2 separate regions of the Homo sapiens genome follow, and region 1 is linked to region 2. A link means that fine-mapping ties the variant in region 2 to the expression of a gene that starts in the linked region. Tissue or cell type: uterus. Region 2 holds a variant in brackets; the other region holds the start of a gene. All regions are shown on one strand. Distances are between the middles of the regions.

Region 1 (2,684 bases), 610 kb before region 2:
TCTGCATCTGATGGTAGCCTAAGACTGCTTCTACTCATGCCAGAAGGCAAAGGAGAGCTGGTGTGTGCAGAGATTACATGGCCAGAGAGGACGCAAAAGAAGAAAGGAAGTGCGACGTTCTTTTTAACCAGCTCTGGTGGAAATAAAGAGAACTCATTTACCCTCTCCCCAGGGAGGACATTAATCTATTCCTGAAGGAACCACCTCCATGACCCAACACTGCCCATTAGTCCCCACCTCCAACATTGGGGATCAAATTTCAACAGGAGGTTTAGGGGAACAAACATCTAAATTACAGCACAGGCCAACCACATGCATGCATTACCAATCACGTAAATAATTTTGAAGTTAAATGCAGAAAACTGCAAACTTTTGAGGCTGATATCCAGGGCCAGGATTAAAATAAAAAGTATTAATGCCTTAAACAGTATTTACTGACCATCTACCCTACTGCAAGGCCCTAGGGAGAAACTGAACAGACATGGTTACTGATTCAACGGAGTTTACAATCTAGGTAGACATACAGGCAAACCATTTCAATAGCTCGGATGGAGAAAACACCTGTGCTCCAAGGAAGGTACCTAACTGAGCAAGCTTCCCTGAGGAGCGATCCTAAACTGTGCCACAAAGATGGTTAAGAAGAGATGAGGCGGCTGGGCGTGGTGGCTCACGCCTGTAATCCCAGCACTTTGGGAGGCCGAGGCTGGCGAATCACGAGGTCAAGAGATCGAGACCATCCTGGTGAAACCCCGTCACTGCTAAAAATACAAAAACATTAGCTGGGCGTGGTGGTACATGCCTGTAATCCCAGCTACTCGGGAGGCTGAGGCAGGAGAATAGCTTGAACCCGGAGGCGGAGGTTGCAGTGAGCCGAGATCGTGCCACTGCACTCCACCCTGGCGACAGAGCGAAACTCGTTTCAAAAAAAAAAAAAAAAGAGGCAGGTTACGGCGCGGGGGCGGGGAAGGGGGCCTGCAGCACCGGCGAGGGGAAGAACCAACTTACTGATGCCTCAGCCAGTGGCTGGAGCCCTAAGAATGGACAGACCTGGCTCCGAAGGTCCTCTTCATAACACTACTGCCGCCAAGAATGTAAGCTGCCCAAGCACGAGGACACTTTTAGAGGGCCCTCAGACTCAGCTTCTTTTGGTCTGTGCCTCAAATTAAGCACATGTCTTACATTTCTCCCAGGTCCCAATTTTCAGGTCTGCTTTTCTTTGTTTTTCTTTGTCGCTCCCCGCTCCTAAGAACCTTCGGCTGGGATGACATTCTTCAGGTGCAGAAACCAGGGGGAAGCTCCCAGAGCAGTGGGGGCTGAACTCAGGACACAGTCATTTTTGCTGTTAAGTCTCTCCTGCGGCGCTGAGGAGGCAGGCTCAAAGTAACCAACCAGAGCAGCCGCAGAGGGAAAAGCTAAGACAGTTCTGGTCCGGCCCAGCGCTTCTCACCCTCTAGCTCTCTACTCTCCGCCGCGCAGCCTCCGCTCCCTCCACATCAGGCACGGCGCTTGATTGACATGAGGGCCCGCCCAATCCCAGTGCGGCAGAGACCGTTGTCGCGTCAGGGACCGGGGAAGGGGGCGACTGAACCTATCAGATTGGGTCCAGAGTGGGTTTCCTGCCCGCGCGGATCCGCCTGCCCACCGCGCGTGCCCCGCCTCTCTCCCAAGAGCTACGCGGCGGCGGCGGAGCGCAGGCCTCGTGCCGTTACGGCCATCACGGCGGCCGCAGTGGCGTCCTGGAGCCCTCCTCAGGTGAGCTGGAGCTGCCCGGCTCGGCAGCGGGAAGGTGAGACGGCCTTGTTGGCAGGCAGACACACACACACCCCCCTTCAGTCCGCTGTCCGTCCATACAGCCTGTTACTCGCTGCGTCGCTTCCTCTTCTCGCGCTGAGTTAGCCCCGGGGGCGCCGTCTGCAGGCTCGGAGCCGAGCCGGAGGGGGCGCGGAGGCTGCTCGGAGGGTCCAGACTTCTGCACCGGGATTCCGCGAGACCCTCGGGCCGTTGCCCCAGGGAGCGTGACCCCGCGGCCTCCTTGTCAGCCCCTGGAGCGCTGTGTCGGGCTGAGAGCCCGGGCGGCCGCCCGTGCGAGCCTGGGAGGTCGAGTGTGCGGCGCGCTGGTTGACTTGTCTGTTTTCTCATGAAAAAGTCCTTTTGCCAGCTGTGGCGTAATCCGAGGCCGGGAAGGTAGGGACGTGGTAGGAGGAAGGGCGCTCTCACCTCCAGCCCGAGAGGAGGGGAGGCGTCAGCCTGCGCGGTGCTGCGGGTGGACATCTTCGGGACGCGCCCTCTCCCCTCCCCCCACCCACCGGCCGTTTTCTAGTCTGGGGCTGTGACTTTAATGGTCTGGACCTGCTTCAGATTCGTACGCGAGTTGCTGGGGCTGTGAACTTTTGACTTGAGTTGTAATATGTTTGGTAAAACAAAAAACCATTTCGATAGGTTTTGTAACCTTTCTTCTGTATTAACATACAAGTTAAATTCGCCGTTAGAAGCTCAGGAAGCTGGGTTTTGTTCAGGGGTGAGGACGTAACCGTAGGAACGCTCTCGGTGTCAAACTGATGGACCCGGAGTCACCTGAAAATAATTATGCACGTTAGATTAGGTAAGAAGCCCTAGAAATTAGGAAAGAATTAGGTTAAAGAGAATTTCCTAACTCCTCTTTGGGTAGGGAGCAAAGCAGCTCA
Region 2 (2,684 bases):
CAACTGAGTTAGGATTTGAAAAGTATTAATAAAAATGTTAGTGAAGCACTTGAAACCTGTTGAAGAAAGATAAATAACAAGATGAGATAATTCTTGATTAATTATTTTTGATTACTCTCTTAATTTGGAATCTAAGGTTCTTGAACTGGACTCATCCCAGTTTTAGTATTTGGAGAGATCAAATACTTAAACGCACCTATGTGTTCACAGAAAGCTTTTTGGAGAATGATAAAGCCTAAAGAGCTCTATCATTAAATCAGATCCTATTAGACAAAGTATTAAGCAAAGGCTGATCAAATTGCTCATACGGTTCATATATGATCTCACCTTCCACCCTAAGTAGTAGAGCAAGGTTGGCTGACTCCATGGAGCAATGAATTAGGGGAAGAATGCTTTTGCCACATCTCAAAAGATCACCAACTGACACTGGAAAGGGCTCTCAACAGAAAGATCCCTGCTTTTGTTTACCTCACAGGTTGTGCGGTGGAAGAGAGAGGACTTACTTGGCCAAGCTCTGGAAATAGAAGCCCTATCTATGGATGCTGTGACATAAACCTAACTTTGGTTGGACTGGCATTAGTCCAGCTTCAGGAGATGAATTGTTATTGTTTAAGCCAATCGTCAGCTTTCAGGCGGGCATGTGAACGTGTTCTAGACAAAGAAACATAAAGAGAAACATAAAGAGAAAACTAGGGGATTTCAAGAAGGATTTCCCTCCCCTATAAAAAGTGAAAGCCCACAGTGAAAAATCCCCTGTCCCACACTTGCCTGCTTCCTGCTTGGCAGTTTATGTTAAACCAATCCTTCTCAAAGCGTGGTCCCCACTTTGAGAACCACTTGGGTACTTGCTAAAAATGCAAATTCTCAAAAGTTAACATAGCAGGCCTGAGACTAATTTCCTTAGAAGGCCCTACTTGAGAAGTTAGCACTGTTTGGTATCTAGATTTCACCCTCTAATCAGAGCGACCCACTGTGCCTAAAATGTACAAACAATGCCATTTATGCTGAACACCTACTTTCCTTCTGGGAGTCTGACATTTTGGTATATGCTAGGCAGAGGATGCCTATGTGACTAGCCCCTAGTGAAAATCTTGGTCACTGAGTCTCTAATGAGCTTCCCTAGTAGATAACATTTTACATGTGTTGTCACAGCTGATTGCTGGAGAAATTAAATGCATCCTGTGTGACGCCACTGGGAAAGAACTCTTGGAAGCTTATGCCTGGTTTTCTCTAGGCTTTGCTCCATGTGCCTTTTCCTTTTTTGCTTTACATCCTCTTCCTGTGATAAATCTTAGCCGCGATAACTGGAAAAAACTAAATCCTCAGTTAACCCTCACCCCCCACCAGACCTACTCAGTCATGAGCTCTGCAGGTGGAACCAACTACTGCGTTTTAACAAGTCTTCTAGGTTATTCTGATACACATTGAAGTTTCAGAGCCTCTGGTAAGGCAGTGATGCTTGCAGCTACTGCAAACTTCTTGGCCCTTGACCTCATGACCCCAGTAGTG[ATGACAGCACTAAG/A]TGACTTAGAGCCTGAATCCTTATGCTTCTGAATTAACCAATTCAGGACTTATCTACCTTTAGATTTCTTGAATGAGAGAATAATATATTATTGGCTGGGTGCAGTGGCTCACGCCTGTAATCCCAACACTTTGGGAGGCTGAAGCGGGCAGATCACCTGAGGTCAGGAGTTGGAAACCAGCCTGGCCACCATGGTGAAACCCTGTCTCTACTAAAAATATACAAAAACAATTAGCCAAAGGTGATGGTGGGCACCTTTAATCCCAGCTACTCGGGAGGCTGAGGCAGGAGAATCACTTGAACCTGGAGGCAGAGGTTGCAGTGAGCTGAGATTGCACCATTGCACTCCAGCCTAGGTGACAAGAGCAAGACTCCCATCTCAAATAAATAAATAAATAAAGTAAAAATTAAAATTAAAATTAAAAAGAATGTATTGTCTAACAACTTATTAAATTAAAATAAAATTCGCAGCAAGTTCTTTGACACTGCTCCAATCAAGAGGAGACCCTTGTGCAGGCCTCTTGAATCTGGGCTTGCCTGTGTCTGCTTCAGCCCATAGAACAGGGTGGAAGTGATGCACTTTCAGTCCTAGGCCCAACTTTTAAAAGGACTGTCAGTTTTTGCTTCCTTCCTCCTGGAGCCCTGAGCCAACATGAAAGAAGCTCAACTGCCCCCAATGCCACTGCACTGCTAAGAAGCTTAAGCTAGCCACGTGGAAATGTGGTCAAAAATAGAGTCTTACATGGCCAGTCCCTAGTTCCAGCCCCTTGCCCTTTGAGACCTCCTAGGGGGAACTCAGGGGTTGGGCAAACTATGACCTACAGGCCAAAGCTGGTCAATTCCTTATTTTTGTATGTTTTTTGAGCTATGGGTGGTTTTTAGATGTTTAAATTGTTTGGACAAAATCAAATGAAAAATATTTTGTGACATGAAAATTTTATGAAATTCATGTTTCAGAGTCTATAAATAAAATGTTTTGAACACTCACTTGTTTGCATATTTTCTCTGGCTGCTTTCATACCAGAGCAGCACAGTTGAGTAGTTGTGATAGAAACCATGTGACCAGCAAGCTCAAAATATTTACTATCCAGTCCTTAAAAGAAAAAGTTTATTGACCCTTGTTATAATTGATTGACCTGCTTTACTCCACTTTCTCAAGAAT

Evidence for each region. PIP is the estimated chance that this variant, and not a neighbour inherited with it, causes the effect.
Region 1: it holds the start of NCK1-DT, and the variant in region 2 is fine-mapped to the expression of NCK1-DT in uterus (GTEx, PIP 0.99).

What each region holds. Positions count from the first base shown.
Region 1 is chr3:136,860,568-136,863,251 of GRCh38, forward strand. NCK1-DT (NCK1 divergent transcript) reads right to left here and starts at 1,496. Exons shown (of 3, transcript NR_110177.1): 1 at 1,180-1,496. It overlaps NCK1 (NCK adaptor protein 1), which reads left to right and starts at 1,641. Exons shown (of 4, transcript NM_001291999.2): 1 at 1,641-1,786. RefSeq lists enhancers at 570-619, 1,180-1,239, 2,300-2,379, 2,390-2,509 and a silencer at 1,600-1,659.
Region 2 is chr3:137,470,567-137,473,250 of GRCh38, forward strand. No RefSeq gene overlaps it. Among named protein-coding and RNA genes, the nearest start is that of SOX14, 290 kb to the right of the region's middle. RefSeq lists an enhancer at 419-478. The variant ATGACAGCACTAAG/A (reference allele first, on the strand shown) is at 1,510.